2 separate regions of the Homo sapiens genome follow, and region 2 is linked to region 1. The links come from fine-mapping of genetic effects on gene expression. A gene starts in region 1. The other region holds a variant in brackets. All regions are shown on one strand. Distances are from middle to middle.

Region 1 (10,603 bases):
AGTCCCAGCTGCTCGGGAGGCTGGGGTGGGAGAATCACTTGAGCCCAGGAGTTCCAGGCTTCAGTGAGCTATGATCACACCGCCACACTCCAGTCTGGGCAACAGAACAAGACCCTGTCTCTTTAAAATATATCCTGGACAGGCATGGCGGCTCACGCCTGTAATCTCAGCACTTTGAGAGCCCAGGGCAGGAAGATTGCTTGAGGCCAGAAGTTTGAGACCAGTCTTAGCAGCATAGCCGAGACTCCATCTCGACAAAAAAATTTTAAAAATTAGGTGGGCGTGATGGCGTGTGCCTGTAATCCCAGCTACTCGGGAGGCTGAGGTAGAATTGCTTGAACCCAGGAGGCAGAGGTTGCAGTGAGCCTCTCTGCAAAAACAAAAAAAACAAAAAACAAAACAAAACAAAAAAATGCTGCAGATCCATTCCTGCCTCTCATGGCCTCGGCCCCACCTCTTCCTCCCACCTGGCATGCTGTCCCCACCGCCACCTTCACGGCTGGCTTCTCCTCCTTATTCAGGTCTCAGCTCGTACACACTTCCTTGGGTCTGAAGGTACCCTCAAGCACATACTACTATTTTATTTGCTTCCTGACACTGTGTTTCCCTGTTGAGTTTATTTTCTTTCTTTTTCGTTTCTTAGAGACAAGGTCTCACTCTGTTGCCCAGGCTGGAGCACAGTGGCACAATCACAGCTCACTGTAACCTTGAATTCCTGGGCTCAAGTGATCCTCCGGCCTCAGCCTCCACAGTATATGGGAACGCAGGCCTGTGCCACGACACCTGGCTAATTTTTAAATCTTTTTAAGAGATGGGGTCTCGCTATGTTGCCCAGGCTGGTCTCAAACTCCTGGGCTTAAGTGATCCTCATGTCTCAGCCTCCCGAAGTGCTGGGATTACAAGCATAAGCCACTGAGTCTGGCTGGATTTATTTTCTTCCTCCTAGTTCCTCTTCCCTCCCTGACTGGAAAGGTAAGGGCCCCACAGGCAGAGACCTGGTGGGCCTGGTCTCTGTCTCAGCTCCTAGAAAACTGACAGGCAAGGCCGGGAGCAGTGGCTCACGCCTGTAATCCCAATATTTTGGGAGGCTGAGGCGGGCAGATCGCCTGAAGTCAGAATTTCAAGTCTAGCCTGGCCAACATGGTGAAACCCTGTCTCTACTAAAAATACAGAAATTAGGCTGCTGCGGTGGCTCACACCTATAGTTCCAGCACTTTGGGAGGCCAAAGCGTGTGGATCACCTGAGGTCAGGAGTTCGACACCAGCCTGGCCAACATGGTGAAACCCTGTCTCTACTAAAAATACAAAAATTAGCCGGGCATGGTGGTGGGTGCCTGTAATCCCAGCTACTCGGGAGGCTGAGGCAGGAGAATCTCTTGAACCTGGGAGGTGGAGGTTGCGGTGAGCCAAGATTGCGCCATTGCATTCCAGCCTGGGCAACAAGAGAGACACTCCGTCTCAAATAAACCAAACCGAAACAAAACAAAAATGAGCCGGTCATGGTGGCGGGCATCTGTATTCCCAGGTACTCGGATGGCTGAGGCAAGAGAACTGCTTGAACCCAGGAGGTGGATGTTGCAGTGAGCCAAGATCGTGCCACTGCACTCCAGCCTGGATGACAGAGTGAGACTCTGTCTCAAAAAAAAAAAAAAAAAAAAATTAGCCAGGCATGGTGGCAGGCATCTGTAATCCCAGCTACTCGGGAGGCTGAAGCAGGAGAATTGCTTGAACTGGGGAGGTGGAGGTTGCGGTGAGCTGAGATCACGCCACTGCACTCCATCCTGGGCGACAGAGTAGGACTCTGTCTCAACAAAAAAAAGAAAGAAAGAAAGAAAAAAGAAAAGAAAACTGACAGGCAAATAGTGGGGGTTTTGACTCTTACTGTCCAGGCAGCATAAATGATGCACCAGAACACACTGCTAGTGAGCATCAAAGGCAGGTTCCAGTCTATCAACTGCTGAGACCGTGTGAGAAAGTTACTTCCTGCCACAAGCCTGCTTGTGCTACAGAGCCAGGCAATGCCTTCTGGTCCAGAACAGGCCTGGGAAGCAGGTGGGAGAAAGTCTTTCTCGCCTAGGAAGACCACGTCCTGTACAGCTGCTATTGAAGGCAGCATCTCTGCGGGCGGGGCAGCCTGGCCATCCCCTTCCCTGAGATGCTCAGGTACATGACAGAGGAGAAGGGTGAGGACCTCGGCTCCAGAGACGCCATTCCAAGCTCCCCACCGTTCCCACAATGTCCACATCCCCGCTCACCCAGCTGCCTCCTGGAAGGCTTGGGACTGTGTCTGGGCCTGAGCCCAAGTAGCATTTTGTGTGTGTGTTTTGAGACAGTCTTGCTCTGTCACCCAGGCTCAAGTGCAGTGGCACGATCTTGGCTCACTGCAACTTCCATCTCCACGGTTCAAGGGATTCTCCTGCCTCAGCCTCCTAAATAGCTGGGACTACTACAGTCATGTGCTACCATGCCCGGCTACTTTTTGTATTTTTAGTAGAGATAGGGTTTCACCGTGTTGGCCAGGCTGGTCTCCAACTCTTTACCTCAAGTGATCCACCCACCTTGGCCTCTCAAAGTGCTGGGGGAGTGAGCACCCAAATTGAGCCACTGTGCCCGGCCAGGATTTTTCTTTCTAGTGACTCTCCTAAAGCCAGAGAACAGCCATTCAGCAGCCAGGGGAGTGACTTTCCCACTACAAACTGGATCCCTGGTATCCAGCTTCCTGGATCCCTGTCATCGACCCACACAGCCCAGCAAGCGAGAAGCAAGTCAACCTTTAAAGCCACGAGGGCTCTCACTGGATTCAAAATGATAAAAATAAAAGCCAACGGTGTATTTCCGAGGGTTGAACAGGAAGCGACAATCACCGTAACAGCAGAGGCTAACATAACTACATTAGCAATTACTTTGTATTTAGTTAGTTTCAGCAATTCCTATGTATTTGATATTCAACAGGTATTATTTTCTGGGATCCATAGCACAGAAACATGAGATTGAAAGGACTACCAAGGATTACTGCCCCTAGATGAAAGGAAGGGAAACTGAGGCCCAGAAAACTTAAGTAACTCACCTAAGAGCACACAGCTAGAAAAGCTGACTGTTTCAAGTCAGCTTCAAATCACCCTAGTGTTCTCTTCCTAGTCAAATGACTCCTCAGGCCCTTCATCTGTAAATGTAACTGGTGACTGAGGCAGTCAACATGACCAGATAATTGGTAACATCACTTTCTGCTCAGTTAGCTTTTTTTTTTTTGAGACAAGTCTCACTCTGTTGCCCAGGCTGGAGTGCAGTGGCCTGTGATCTCAGCTCACTGCAACCTCCGCCTCCCAGGCTCAAGCAATTCTTGTGTCTCAGCCTCCCGAGTAGCTGGGATTACAGGCATGTGCCACCACGCCTGGCTAATTTTTTTAGAAACAGGGTTTCACCATGTTGGCCGGGCTAGTCTCAAACTCCTGACCTCAGGTGATCCGCCCACCTCAGCCTCCCAAAGTGCTGGGATTACAGGTGTGAGCCACCACGCCCAGCCTGCTCAGTTAGCTTTTTTAAGAAGGGCTAGCCGGGCGCGGTGGCTCACGCCTGTAATCCCAGCATTTTGGGAGGCCGAGGCAGGTAAATCTCGAGGTCAAGAGATCAAGACCATCCTGACCAACATGGTGAAACCCCGTCTCTACTAAAAATACGAAAATCAGCCGGGCATGATGGCGAGCGCCTGTAGTCCCAGCGACTCAGGAGACTGAGGCAGGAGAATCACTTGTACCCGGGAGGCGGAGGCTGCAGTGAGCCAAAATCAAGCCACTGCACTCCAGCCTGGCCACAGAGTGAGACTCCGTCTCCAAAAAAAAAAGTGCTGATGATCCGTCTAGCAACTTGGCATTTCTAGCTTTTTTGTTTGTTTTACTGAAAATTAATCTCCACCTGTCCTAACTTTCAAAGAGTCCCTGCCTCCTCTAAAAAGGGCCAGGCCTAGAAAAAGTACCTGGAGAAGTTAGGACCCGCCAACCCCCACCAGACCAATCTCAAACTCTTGGGAAAAAGCCTGAAATGATCCTTTTCCTTGGAATGTATTGACTGATTTAAAAGGAAATGGCTGCAGTTTGCACACCGACACTAAGCTCAAAAGCAAGACGGAGAATAAGCCAACTAGACTTGGCCTGGCTGGCTACTTAAAAAAAAAATTCCTCCCCGAGCTGGCAGGATATTGTCACCCTAAAAAGCAGTGGCAAAGATTCTCCTCTCACAAACATGGATAGCTTCCCCTTCCCTCTGACCGCTCCTGCCCACGTGGCCCTAGAGGCTGGGACCTTGTCAGTGACATGTGACTCGGTTGACACTCGTTTGACACAAAAACATGTGTCTGGCCAAGAGAAGCGGGTTTAAAAAATCTAAGAAACTTCCTCAGGCTTCATTTGCTCCCCCATTCCCAGTAGGGGAGACCTCGATGGGCAGGACCCAGAAACGTTCCATCTCCAGGAACAAACCCCCGCAACCTCAAACCAGGAAACATCAGGTCTCAAACAGCAGCCCAGAGAAAAGCACTCAGGTTTCTGTTCCTCTAAAGCATTCCCTCATGGTCACTCCTCCCTACCATGGACTTTGATTTCTGCAAACCAGATCCTCCACGCTAAAGCCAAATCGACTCCTAGCTCCTCCATGAAACTTTGCTTCCTCTTTGCTTCCTCCCAGAGAGAAGGTGGCAGGTTTAGGAGTGGGCTGCAGTGTTGAAATCAGGACTAGCTGACAGTTATTTTATCAAACCACATTCAGAAACGGTAGATACGAGGAAAAGGTTCAAAGATAAGCCGTAAGTAAAATTCCTGGAAGGAATGAGGAGTCCCGGTACTGCAGGAAAAGGGCGATGTCAATGATTCTCCCCATTTTACAGGATGGAAAACTGAGGCCTCAGATGGACAGGCACTTGTCCAAGTTCTGAGTCCTGGGACAACTGCAAAGCTCTTAAGGAAGAAGGGAGTCGCTTAAGGATCTGGAAGGCGGACCGGGTGGTGGCTGCCCACCCTGGTTCCCGAGGTGGAGGTTGGGGAGACCCAGCCGGCCCCGCCCATACCTTCCCTCCTGGTCCCGCCCACCCACCTTGGCCCCGCCTCGTACCTCCCTCGCTCCCATTGGCCCAGCCTCCCCAGGCCCGCCCCTTCGCGCTCCCGACATATAAAAGCCCCCCGCCCCGGCCTGCCGACCTCCACTCGCCGCGGGCCTGCGAGCGCCCGCCCCTCGCGGGGGCCGGGCCGCGGGGACGGGGGCGGGTGGTGTCGTTCCAGCCGGGCCCCGGCCCCCTCCCCCACGGTCCAGACAGTCGCCGCCGCCATTTTGACCGCCCGCCCCTTCCCCCCGGACTGTGATTACAGAGACACCTACTGCCCCGGCCCCGCCGCCCACCCCGGCCCGGCCAGCCACCCCGGGGCCGCCCTGGTTACCTCCGCTTCTCCCCACTTCTGTCTGCGGAAACGCTTTTCGGAGGTCTCGGAGTCGATGTTGGGAAGGGGACGGGACGTGCTGGGGTCCCCGGGCCGGGCCTGGGGGGTGGGGGTGGGGGTCGGCCGGGCGGTTGTTGTTGTTGACTCGCGTTGCCGGGTTGCTTGGTCGCCACGACTACCGTGGCTATGGCGCCTCCGTTTCCCTCACCGGGGCAACTGTTGCTACCCACCCTAGTTACGTCACGCGCGGGGGCGGGGCCCGGGGTGATTGGCGGCGGCCGGAGAAGTGATTGGACGGCGCCAGGCCTTGCAGCTAAACTATTAGTTCCGATGCACGCTTTTCAACACCCTCTGGACTTCCCGGCGATCTGATTTATCAGTATGAATGTCCATCAAAAGAAACTGAACCCTCAAAGGCAGCCGGGCCCGTCACTCCGGCAGGGAAGCAGCTGGTTAAGAATAAAGGGGTAGGACTCGTGAGGACGGGATTGGTTTGCCGATGTAAAACCGGCCTCCTGGTTCGACTAAAGGGACGTCAATCTACCAAAGGTTTGCCGCGCTCTCTGGCTGGAGGCCGTGCGCATGCTCGGCACGCAAGGCCGATTGGGAGTTGTAGTCCGCTCTTGCGTACACTTTACATGTCTTACCAAATTAAAAAGGCGAGAAAGGAAGACTCCGCTCCAGACTTCTCTCTCGCTCGGTGGGCCAGTTTCTGGCTTCTTGCGCTGACGTCAGGGGAGGAATGCAGTGACGCAGCGCAGCCCCTCTGTGACGACAGCGGCGAAGGCCGGACTCGGGATTCGATGACGTCACTGGGCGCGCGTCCCCCTTCCCCACTGCCCATGGCCCCGTCGGGGTTGGGTGGAAGCGGGAGGCCGCGGCGGGGTTCGATCCCAGCTCCCACCCGCTGGGGTGACATCCTCCTCCGCCCAAGCCGGCCAGACAGCGCGGCCGCCGCGCCTTCTCCCGCCTCCCGGTCCCCTCCAGCCGGAAAAGGTCACCGCTGCCGGGGTGACCGCGGCTATCTCTGCCCCGCAGGCGGTGCGGCCGCCTTGGGAAAGGTCTCTGCAAGGCGGGGGACTTCATTCGCGGCTTCAACCGCGGTAGATAAGCAAAGGTCAGCCCCGACCCAGCCCAGGGAGCTTGGTCCGCCCAGGAGAGCTCACCACAACCCCCGCCACACACACACACCTCCCACACATACGCTCCTCTGTGCCTCAGTTTCCTCAAGGGACTGTCTGGGTGCTGCAGGACGAGAAGAGACAGAAACAGGGCCCGGACTAGGGTGAACATCTTGGGAGCAAAAACTCAGTCATCAAGATAAATAATCTTCTAATTCAATATTTGTTAAATATCCAAATTAATGGGAAAAAATAAATCTATGATGAACAAAACATCACAATTTTAAATAAAGACAGGATCCGCCAACACAGGGATTAAGGTGAGATGCGTTATGCAAGCTCAGGGTCAGATCTTGTGTTTAAAATAAATTTATTATTATTATTTTTTGAGACGGAGTCTCACTCTGTCGCTGAGGCTGGAGTGCAGTGGCGCAATCTCGGCTCACTGCAAGCTCCGCCTCCCAGGTTCACGCCATTCTCCTGCCTCAGCCTCCCGAGTAGCTGGGACTACAGGTGCTCGCCACCACGCCCGGCTAATTTTTTGTATATTTAGTAGAGACGGGGTTTCACCGTGTTAGCCAGGATGGTCTCGATCTCCTGACCTCGTGATCCGCCCGCCTCGGCCTCCCAAAGTGCTGGGGTTACAGGCGTGAGCCACCACGCCCGGCCTACTTTTTATGTTTTAAATGTCAATTATCTTATGACTGAGCTCTTTGGCCTTCTCTTAAATTTTGCATTCTCATCCCAGGTAGGCCCTAGAACAGCAAGGGGAAAAGAAAACAGGCTCAGACAGCCCTGAAGTCTAATGCCAGCCCTGCTGTGTGGCATTCAGAAAGTGACTCCACCTAAGTTTGTTTCCTAATTCAACCAACATTATATTTCCTCGGTGCAAGGCCCTGGGCTATACAAGTGAAGAAAGGTGACTTCATTTATGGTGGCTCACACCTGTAATCCCAGCACTTTGGGAGGCCAAGCAAGGAAGATTGCTTGAGCCAAGGAGTTCAAGACCAGCCTTGGCAACAAAGCAAGACACCCGTCTCTACAAAAATTAGCTGGGCATGGTAGTGTATGCCTGTAATCCCAGCTACTCCGGAGGCTGAGGTAGGAGGATTGCTTGAACCCGGGAGGGGGAGGTTGCAGTGAACCAAGATTCTGCCACTGCACTCCAGCCTGGGCGACAGAGCGAGACTTTGTCTCAAAAAAAAAAAAGCAATTAGCTAGGCGTGGTGGCATGTGCCTGTGGTCCCAGCTACTCTGGAGGCTGAGGCTGGCAGGATTGGTTCAGCTCCGGAGGTAGAGGCTGCAGTAAGCAATGATTGTGTGGTCCAGCCTGAGTCTCAGAAAAAAAAGAAAAAAAGGAAAAAAAAGAAAGCAAACAACTCCCTTTGCATTCTAGGATGGGATACACAATAAACAGATAAATTGTAAGATAGGCTCCTTAGAGTCCTGAGAGCAACATAAGAGAGTGGGGTAGGAGAATGAGAGGATGCTGTAGCCAGTGTTATCTGAGGGGGGATGTCCCACAGAATGAGCCTGAGTGGTGAGAGACGAAGCAAGCCTCATAAATCCAGGTGGAGGGGCCGGTCATGATGGCTCATGCCTGTAATCCCAGCACTTTGGGAGGCCAAGTTCAGGAGTTCCAGAACAGTCTGGCCAACACGGCGAAATCCTGTCTCTACTAAAAATACTAAAATAGGTCGGTGTGGTGGCACGTGCCTGTAGTCCCAGCTACTGGGGAGGCTGAGGTGGGAGAATCACTTGAACCTGGGAGGCAGAGGTTGCAGTGAGCCAAGATCGCGCCACTGTACTCCAGCCTGGGCAACACAGTGAGACTCCGTCTCAAAAAAAAAAAAAAAAAACGGGGGGAGAGAACTGCCTTCAAAGCTGGGAACAGGAACTTCTGCTAAAGCCAGGAGAGATAAGGTTGTAGAGGTAATAATAGCCACATAATTCCCAGCGAACCCAGCAAAGTGGGACGCTCCCCGCTCTTGACAGGTGGGCAATGGATGCCCAGAGAGAGGAAGTAGGTGCCCTCTCTGCCAGAGGCGTGTGAACCAGAGCAACTCCATCTTGAACAGGAACTGGGTAAAATGAGGCTGAGACCTGCTAGGCTTCATTCCTAAATGGTTAAGGCATTCTTAGTCACAGGATAAGACAGGAGGTCAGCGCAAAATACAGTTCATAAAGACCTTGCTGGCTGGGTGCAGTGGCTCATGCCTATAATCCGAACAGTTTGGGAGGCGGAAGTGGGCGGATCACTTGAGGTCAGGAGTTCGAGACCAGTATGGAAAACATGGCAAAACCCGATTTCTAATAAAAATACGAAAATTAGATGGGCGTGGTGGTGGGCACCTGTAATCTCAACTACTTGGAGGCTGAGGCAGGAGAATCGCTCGAACCCGAGAGGCAGAGGTTGCAGTGAGCCGAGATCACCCCACTGCACTCCAGCCTGGGTGACAGAGTGAGACTCCATCTCAAATAAATAAATAAATAAATAAATAAATAAATAAATAAATAAATAAAAATAAAGACCTCGCCGGGCGTGGTGGCTCACGCCTGTAATCCCGTCACTTTGGGAGGCTAAGGTGGGCAGATCACGAGGTCAGGATTTTGAGACCAGCCTGGCCAACATGGTGAAACCCCATCTGTACTAAAAATGCAAAAATTAGCCGGGTGTGGTGGCGTGCGCCTGTAATCCCAGCTACTAGGGAGGCTGAGGCAGAATTACTTGAACCCGGGAGGTGGAGAGTGCAGTGTGCCAGGATCGCGCCACTGCACTCCAGCCTGGGTGACATTGTGAGACTCTGTTTCAAAAAAGATAAAAATTTTAAAAATAATTTAGAAAAATACATAAATAAAGACCTTGCTGATAAAACAGGTTGCAGTAAAGAAGCTGGCTCAAACCCACCAAAACCAAGATGGCCATGAGAGTAACGTCTGGTCCTCACTGCTACACTCCCACCAGCACCATTACAGTTTACAAATGCCATGGCAACGCCAGGAAGTTACTTTATATGGACTAAAAACAAGAGGCATGGAATAATCCACCCCTTGTTTAGCATATCATCAAGAAATAAGGCTGAGTGTGGTGGCTCATGCCTGTAATCCCAGCACTTTGGGAGGCCGAAGCTGGCAGATCGCTTGAGGTCGGGAGTTCAAGAACAGCCTGGCCAGCATGGCGAAACCCCGTCTCTACTTAAAATACAAAAATTAGCCGGGCGTGTGGCGCATGCCTGTGATCCCAGCTACTCAGGAGGCTGAGGCAAGAGAATTGCTTGATCCCGGGTGGCAGAGGTTGCAGTGAGCCAAGATCACACCACTGCACTCCAGCCTGGGCAACATGGAGACTCCATCTCAAAAAAAATAAAAAAAAATACAGCCCTCGAGGCTGCTCTATGGAGTAACCATTCTTTTATTCCTTACAAATTTGCTTCCACTTTACGGACTCACCTGGAATTCTTTTTTTTTTTTTTTTTTTTGAGACGGAGTCTCTCTCTGTCACCTAGGCTGGAGTTCAGTGGCACGATCTTGACTGATTGCAACCTCCGCCTCCCAGGCTCAAGCGATTCTTTTGCCTCAGCCTCCCGAGTAGCTGGGACTACAGGCGAGCGCCACCACGCCTGGCTAATTTTTGTATTTTTAGTAGAGATGGGGTTACACCATATTGGCCAAGCTGGTCTCTAACTCCTGACCTCGTGATCTGCCCGCCTCGGCCTCCCAAAGTGCTGGGATTACAGGCGTGAGCCACCGCACCAGGCCCTGAATTCTTTCTTGCGTGATATCCAGGAACCCTGTCTTGGACTCTGGATCGGACCCCCCTTTCCTGTAACATCTCCACCCCAAGATCACGAAGCTGGAGGAACCAGAGCCCATCTCTTTTCATGGGACTTTCCAGTGCCCTGGGTGTGACCCTGGATGGGAGAAGAGGAGAAGCAGCAGCTCCAGTCTGCCTGGAATTGCCGGTTGAGTCCCAGCCCTGACAGTACCTGCAAGAATTAATGAGACTTCCAGGCAGGCAGTGCCCAAGAATGAATCCCAGCTGGCAATACAAGTCAC
Region 2 (8,000 bases), 30 kb before region 1:
ACATTTTTTTTTTTTTTTTGAGACAGAATCTTGCTGTGTCTCCCAGGCTTGAGTGCGGTGGCGCAGTCTCCGCTCACTGCAACCACCTCCCAGGTTCAAGCAAGTCTCATGCCTCACCCTCCTGAGTAGCTGGGATTACAGGTGCATACCACCATGCCCGGCTAATTTTTGTATTTTTAGTAGAGATGGAGTTTCACCATGTTGGTCGGGCTGGTCTTGAACTCCTGACTTCAGGTGATCCACCCACTTCAGTCTCCCAAAGTCCTGGGATTACAGGTGTGAGCCACAGCGCCCAGCCAACAATAGACAACACTTCTGTAGTATTGTGTTAAGAATTTCATGCATATCAGCTGAGGCCCAGAGAGGCTGAGTAATTTATCTGAGGCCACACAGCATTCAATCCCAGGACATCTGCATATGTTCTCTTCATTGGGGGCCACACAGGCTCCTGCTAGCGGTGGTTGGTAACCACCGTCATGGACTGGGCTTCTAGTGCCCACCACCCACCACTGCCTGCCTCCTCTGGGGCCCGCGTTGGGGCACTTACCGTGGCTGGCGAGGCACGGGTGGTGTGAGAGTAAGACTGGCTGGCACTGCCCAGCATGTAGCCGCCTTGGATCACGTAGGTGCCTGCTCCGCTGCCGCCGCCTCCGGTGCTGCCACTGCCACCCCCGCCACCGCCTCCCCCGCCGCCGCCGCCACCACCACTGCCACCACCTCCGCTGCTGTTGCTGGCCCCAGCCCCAGTGCTGGTGGAGCTGGCGACGACCTGGCTGCCGGACACGTACATGGGCATGGAGCCACTGCTGGCCACCGCCTGGGAGGTGGCGGGGGTGCTGACCTGGGTGGCCGTGCCTGCGGCCTCGTAGTAGCTGGTGCTTGCCGTCTGCGTGTACAGCGGCGTCTCGGGATAGGAGTAGGTGCTGGAACGGCTGGGAAAGAGGCAAAGCCAAGGGAGAGTCAGGGGGATGAGAACTGGGGGGCCGAGGGGCATGACTGTGCAGGAAGGGGGGTCCTAGGAGGGGACTGGGGAAGCAGCAGCTCCCCTGCAGCAAGGAGCAGATCCTAGCATTCATCTACAACGGACTGGGTACCATCCTGAGTGCTTGATGGGCAGTATTTCATATAATCATCAGCTGGGCATGGTGGCTCCTGCCTGTAATTCCAGCACTTTGGGAAGCAGAGGCAGGAGGATCGTTGAAGGCCAGGAGTTCAAGACTAGCCTGGGCCACATAGTGAAAACCCATCTCTACAAAAAATATGAAGATTAGCCAGGCATGCTGGTGCACACCTGCAATCCCAGCTACTTGGGAGGCTGAGGCAGGAAGATCCCTTGAGTCCAGGAGTTCAAGGTTGTAGTGAGCTATAACCATACTACCACTGCAGCAAAGCCTAGGTGACAGTGAGACTCTGGCTTTTTATTTTTGTTATTTTATTTATTTATTTACTTATTGAGACAGAGTCTTGCTCTGTCACCCAGGCTAGAGTGCAGTGTCGCAATCTTGGCTCACTGCAACCTCCGCCTCCTGGGTTCAAGCTATCCTCCTGCCTCAGCCTCCCAAGGAGCTGGGAATACAGGGCTCACCACCACACCAGGTTAATTTTTGTATTTTTTTAGTACAGTTGGTGTTCCACCATGTTGGCCAGGCTGGTCTCGAACTTCTGACCTCAAGTGATCCACCCGCCTCAGTCTCCCACAGTCCTGGGATTACAGGCATGAGCCACCACACCTGGCCGACCCTGTCTTTTTAATTAAAAAAAAAAAAAAATACCGAAGGGTTAGGGAACTTGGAATGCTACACACTTCATTAAAAAAATAAAATTGGCAAGTACTTCGAGTGCCTACTGTGTGCTAGGCACTGTTTCACACACTTTGGACACAGCAATGGACAAGAATGAAAAGCCCCGGCCCCCGGAACCGTCTAGTTGGGGAGACAGGCAAGAAGCCACGTGCAAAGGTAAATGAGAGATCATAACAGAAGGTGATCAGGCAGTGAGTGAAGCAGGAAGGGGGTGGGGCTAGAGAAGGCGATGCTGTGATTGGAAGGGACTAGAGAAGGCGACGCTGTGATTGGAGAAGACCATCAGGAATGCAGATATGTTTCCCCTGAGCCAAGCTACCTATCCCAGGCTGGGGAAGCCTCTCTCCTTCAGATATCGCGTGACGGGATGGGCACCGGTGACACAGGCTTGAGGCTGCAAATCGTCACAAGTATACAAGTATAAAAACCACCAGGGGTTCAACCTCAAGGGGCTGTTAAACAAAAGATGATGGAATCCTATGCAGGGGTGAAAGAGAAGGAGGCAAGGCTTGTCGTCCCCCGAAAGAACAAGCTCCAGAACCTAACACCGGGCAGATAAGAGGCAGAGAAGAGTGGGGACCGTGTGACCGAACAATAGGGAAGAATGCGTTGCATGTGGCATGCGTGTCTGTCATCTGTGGGCATGGAGGGCTCCGTCGAGGGGGACAGGCAGGGGGCACCTCTCACCATCTCGCTAAACATCGTTGGACATAGTTTTGATCTTTGAACTCTTTCAATGTACTAGTGATTAAAAACATAGCATTAGGCCAGGTGCAGTGTAATCACACCTGTAATCCCAGCACTTTGGGAGGACGAGGCGGGTGGATCACTTGAGGTCAGGAGTTCGAGACCAGCCTGGCCAACATAGTGAAACCGTCTCTACTAAAAATACAAAAATTAGCCAGGCATGGTGGCAGGCGCCTGTAGTCCCAGCTACTCAGGAGGCTGGGGCAGGAGGATCACTTGAACCTGGGAGGTGGAGGCTGTAGTGAGCTGAGATCATGCCACTGCACTCCAGCCTGGGTGACAGAGTGAAACTCCACCTCAAAAAAAAAAAAAAAAAGGGAGGGGGGCAGGGGCAGGCACGGTGGCTCACACCTGTAACCCCAGCACTCTGGGAGGCCAAGGCGGGTGGATCACCTGAGGTCAGGAGTTCAAGACCAGCCTGGCCAACATGATGAAACCCTCTCTCTACTGAAAATACAAAAAGTTAGCCGGGTGTGGTGGTGGGCGCCTGTAATCCCAACTACTCGGGAGACTGAGGCAGGAGAATCGCAGGAGAACCACCCTGAAGGTGGAGGTTGCAGTGAGCCAAGATTGCACCATTGCACTCCAGCTGTGCAACAAGAGGGAAACTCTATCTCAAAAAAAAAAAAAAAAATTAAACATCCAGAAAGACAGTGTGGTCAGTCAAGAGGTGGCCTGGCTCAGACTCTGAAGGTGGCAGGGGAGGGAGCCGCACAGGCCCGAGTGGTTGTGGGTGAACAAAGAGAGGGAGTTGAGGGGGACAGTGGAAGGAGATATGGAAGCATGGTCTTTGTCACACATCAGGTCCAGCTCTCGATCTCTCTGTCCTGCCCTATGTCTACCACACAAAGTGACACCAAGAGCACATGACCTGAGCAAGAGCCCCTACTTCTCCAAGGCGGGGGCCACAGCCTGCTCACTCCTGCACACCCAGCATGCAATGTGTGCTGCAAAAAGGTTGCTTTGGTAGATGGTTGCTGAATGACTGAATAAATGAATGTGTGCAGCTCTGGATGCCCCCCAGAACAGGACCAGGGATGGAGGCCCAGGGGCTGTGGCTTTGGCCAGGGTGGGGATAGGGCTGGCAAAGGGTCGGGAACTCGCAGTAATTCACTCAGAGGGAGAGACAGAAGGGGTGGGCAGCTGACAGCAGGAGTGGCCCCCAACAACTTCTCGTAGCAGAAAAACCCGATAGCAACGATGAACTAGGTGCAATCACACACACTATGATCACTGAGAGAGGAATTCAGACAGAAGCAAAGGAGAGACAGGAGAGACGCTACCAGGGATGGCAGCAGGAACCCTTGGACACCGTGTTCCTCTTTGCAATGCCCTGTCTGGCCCCTGCCAGCTTGGCTCAACCACACAGTGAAAAGATTAGCAGCACTGGAAAGAAACAAATGGAACTGTGAGGTAGCCGGACGCCGGGGACCAAGCCTCACGATTTAGATGCCTGGACCAGGCCCACTGGGGTCGGTCAGAGCATCATGACCCTAGGACTAAGTCGATCCATGAGCTAACCAATCCCAGCATTGTCCCCAGAAGAACAAGTGGCAGGGATGAAAAAAGAAATCATGCAAATGCAAAGAAAACCAAGTGAAACCTCTGGAAACTAAACCAACAGTAACTCTAGTACTGCAGCAATTTCTGTGGAGATGGGAGAGGGAAGGTGGCATGGAGGACCCCCGGCGAGGAGCCCGAGCCGGGACTGAAGCGGGGCCAGGACGTGGCCCCTGCCTGACACGGCCCATACACAGGAATGGTAGTGCTGTACCCAGGGAGGGGAAGAAGCCCCCTATGCATCACTGGGTGGGGACTGATGACATCGTGGCTGCTGCATCTGCACAGGGGTTATTACACAGCAGCTAAGAGGGTGACCAGGACCCACGAGGACACATGG[T/G]AGAAGAGCCAGGAAAGAAATAAGGTATGGATGGAATGTCCTGCGTCTATTTCTGACCACAGAAAGCGGGTAGAGGCTGGGCACTGTGGCTCATGCCTGTAATCCCAGCACTTTCGGAGGCCAAGACGGGAGGATCATTTAAGTCCAAGAGTTCGAGGAGATGAGCCTGGGCAACGTGGCAAAACCCCATCTCTACAAAAATACAAAAATTAGCTGAGCATGGTGGTGCACACCTGTAGTCCCAGCTACTAGGGAGGCTGAGGTAAGAGGATTGCTTGAGCCCGTGAGCTGCAGTGAGCCCTGATCGCGCCACTGCTCTCTGGCCTGGGCGACAGAGTGAGACCCTGTCTCAAAAAAAACAGAAAAAAAAAGTCCAGTGCGGTGGCTCATGCCTGTAATCCCAGCACTTTGGGAGGCTGAGACGGGTGGATCACGAGGTCAGGAATTGAAGACCAGCCTGACCAACATGGTGATACCCCATCTCTACTAACAACACAAAAATTAGCTGGGTGTGGTGGTGTGTGCCTGTAATCCCAGCTACCCGGGAGGCTGAGACACGAGAATCACTTGAACACAGGAGGCAGAGGTTGCAGTGAGCCGAGATCACACCACTGCACTCCAGCCTGGCGATAGAGCAAGACTCCATCTCAAAAAAAAAAACAAAAAAAAAGAAAAAAATGGATAGAGGGCTAGAGTTTCTGTTCTTAGAGTATCTCTGGAAAGAAACAAAGAAACAGGTCACAGCATCCTCTCTGGGACAGGGTTGAGAGTCAAATGATTTTTTTTTTTTGAGATGGAGTGTCACTCTATTGCCCAGGCTAGAGTACAGTGGCACGATCTCAGCTCACTGCAACCTCCGCCTCCTGGGTTCAATCAATTCTTCTGCCTCAGCCTCCCGAGTAGCTGGAATTACAGGTGCCTGCCACCACTCCTGGCTAACTTTTGTATTTTTAGTAGAGACAGGGTTTCACCATGTTGGCCAGGCTAGTCTTGAACTCCTGACCTCAAGTGATCTGCCCGCTTAGGCCTCCCAAAGTGCTGGGATTACAGGCGTGAGCCACCGTGCCTGGCCTTTTTTTTTTTTTTTTGGTTAAAAACCAGGCTCATTTGACTCCCAAGCCCTAAGCTATGCCGGGGTGCCTTTCCCAACCTTCAAGGGTCCCTCTGCTTCGCCACTTTTCGTGGCTGTGGCTGCCCCTGGGGAGTGCCCACCTGTGTGTCTGTCACCTGAGGCCTTGAAGGCCGGATGGCCTGCTGGGGGCTGGGACTGGGGACTGGTGTCCTGGGAGACTGGGGAGGCTCCAGTGCAGACCTGACTCCCTCACCCACCCCTCTCCCTTCACTTACATGGCACTGGCCGTGTAGCTGGCATCGCCGCCCTCCACATACTGCACCTGGCTGGAGTACACGTGTGGGACGGGCACCTGCTGGAGCTGCTGCACCTGGGGCAGAGGAAGGGCACGTGGAGGGTCAGGGGTGGGCCAGCTCCTACGGTTCTCCCTCTAAAGGGCTGGTGCCCACCCAGGCTATCCCTGACGCCCAGCTCCCGGACCCAAGGGTGGCTTCTGGACTCTCAACAAAACACCCTGGAGGAGGCCAGGGCTGGGAATCAGGAAGAGCTGTGTCAGGAGAAGCCAGGACTCTCGGCTTCGGCTGGGGCCAGCAAGGGTGGGGCCTGACGGACAGTGGAGGGGACCCGAGACAGGGTCCTGTAGTGGGCGTGAAGGTTGGACCCCAGGCACAGGGGCAAGGCTATCGCTGGAGCCATGGAGCTACAGAAAGGGCCTCAGGGGTGGGGCCTGGAAACCGGGCACAGGATGTGAGGGGCGGAGCCTGGGGCCCCGGTTGGTGGGACAGAACCTGGAATCACTGACAGGGCCTTAGGGGCGGGGCCTGAGTCCCCCACCTCCATCCCCCACCCTTGTCTGCAGGGGCGGAGCTGGGACCTGGACGGGGCTTGGGTGGGGAGTCAGAGGCGGGTCCCTAGACCGACCCGTCGGGCGGAGGTGGGGTCTACAGGGCTTGCGGGGCCTGGTGGGCGGCCCAGACTGGGCGCCCCCGCCCCCGCCCGCCCGCTGCCCCCCGCCCGTGCGTCCGCCACCTACTTTGAGGGCCGTGGCGGCCGTGCCGAACACTAGCACCTGGGGGATTCTCTGGATCCTGACCCTCTGGTCGGGGCTGGCTCGGGCCGGGAGCCGGGACAGTGGCTCGAAGACCACTTTCTGCTGCGGCAGGAGCAGGTGTGGGGGCAGCACGCCCACCAGCTCCACCCACTGCTCGGCGCCCGGCTCGTAATGGGGCGGCGGCGGCTCGGGGCTGCCTAGCTGCGGGGCCTCGCCGCTGCACGCGGGCGGCCGGGGCGGCGGCTCCGGCGGCGGCGTGGGCCGGGGATCTCGCTGCTCTGCCTTCCTAGCGGGAAACTGACTGCCTGAGCTCTGGAGGACAAACAGAGACACTGGGGGGTCAACGGGGGCGGCCGCGGGCGGGGCTCCAGGCCTCCACCCACCGGGTTGCTGAGCGCGCACGCAGCCACCCGAGGGAAGATCCCCGCCGCCCGGGGTCTCGGAGAGGGGTTAGAACTGACCCAGGGCCACGCAAGAAAGAAGAGGGGTTTGAATCCAGATCTCTCTTAGCAAAACCTGGACCCTGAGCTGCCAGGGGGCCGGGAAAGGGGAAGGATGTAGGGCAGTGTCTGCAGCTCACAGAGGCATTTCCCTCCCTGCGGCCTCAGGGGCCTGCACTCCCCAGCCCCAGCCCGGGACCAGCCCCTTTGCCCGTGGGGTAGGAGGGGGAGACACACACCTCTTGAGCCACGTGGACTGGCTGGAGGCCCTGCACGGTCAGCGGCTGCACCGGGCCGGGTTTGGGCGCTTGTGGAGTGGCCTGGACCACAGATCTCTGGGAGGGGAAAGGCAACAATAAGATGACCATGGCAACGATGGCCGTCAACCTACCCAGCCCCTGCACAGGTGAGCTTCTGTAAAGCTCACAGCAGACCCATAAGCAAGAGGCCACCATTCTCCAGCCAAGCAAGGAGGGTGCTGGATCCATTACTGATAAAGTGAGGCTCCCAGGAAGCAGCAGGGCTGAGTTGAACCTGGGACTAACTTCGGGGTCTCTGCTCTCCGCCCCCTCTCCCTACGGGCCCCTGAAGCTGTGCCAAGAACCCGCAGGCAAGGCCTTGGGTTATCTTTCGTCCCCACACCCCCCAATGTCAACTGTGTGCCCTGTTCTGTGCTGTGGCGGGCATGCGGGGATTATCCTAGGGGCGCAGAGCCAGGGACGGAGGCTGGCGGAGGAGGGTGCTGAGTGGAGGAGCTGGGGCCTGGACCTAGGTCTGGAGGTTCGGGGGGGCTCTAGTGCCAGGCGGGGGAGTATCTGTGAAACCTCTGGGACAGGGTTTCTGTTTACACTTGGGGAAGGGTCTATGGATTTCATCTGTTTTTTCAAGGGGCTTGGAACCCCCTCAACTTCAGTGGTAACAACCAGATGGTGCGCAGCCCCAGCATCTTAACCTGCGCCGGCTCAGGGCTCTGCCTCCTGCAGAGGCT

The links. PIP is the estimated chance that this variant, and not a neighbour inherited with it, causes the effect. A credible set is the group of variants that fine-mapping cannot tell apart.
Region 2: its variant is the best candidate, but not a certain one, in a credible set for the expression of RFX1 in aorta (GTEx, PIP 0.62).

The regions. Positions count from the first base shown.
Region 1 is chr19:14,000,677-14,011,279 of GRCh38, forward strand. It overlaps RFX1 (regulatory factor X1), which reads right to left and starts at 5,644. Exons shown (of 21, transcript NM_002918.5): 1 at 5,427-5,644. RefSeq lists enhancers at 4,870-5,398, 5,399-5,926, 5,927-6,454 and silencers at 5,066-5,445, 5,496-5,675.
Region 2 is chr19:13,972,196-13,980,195 of GRCh38, forward strand. RFX1 (regulatory factor X1) reads right to left here. Exons shown (of 21, transcript NM_002918.5): 7 at 7,252-7,347; 8 at 5,797-5,891; 9 at 548-932. Among named protein-coding and RNA genes, the nearest start is that of DCAF15, 24 kb to the left of the region's middle. RefSeq lists enhancers at 7,305-7,831, 7,832-8,000. The variant T/G (reference allele first, on the strand shown) is at 4,450.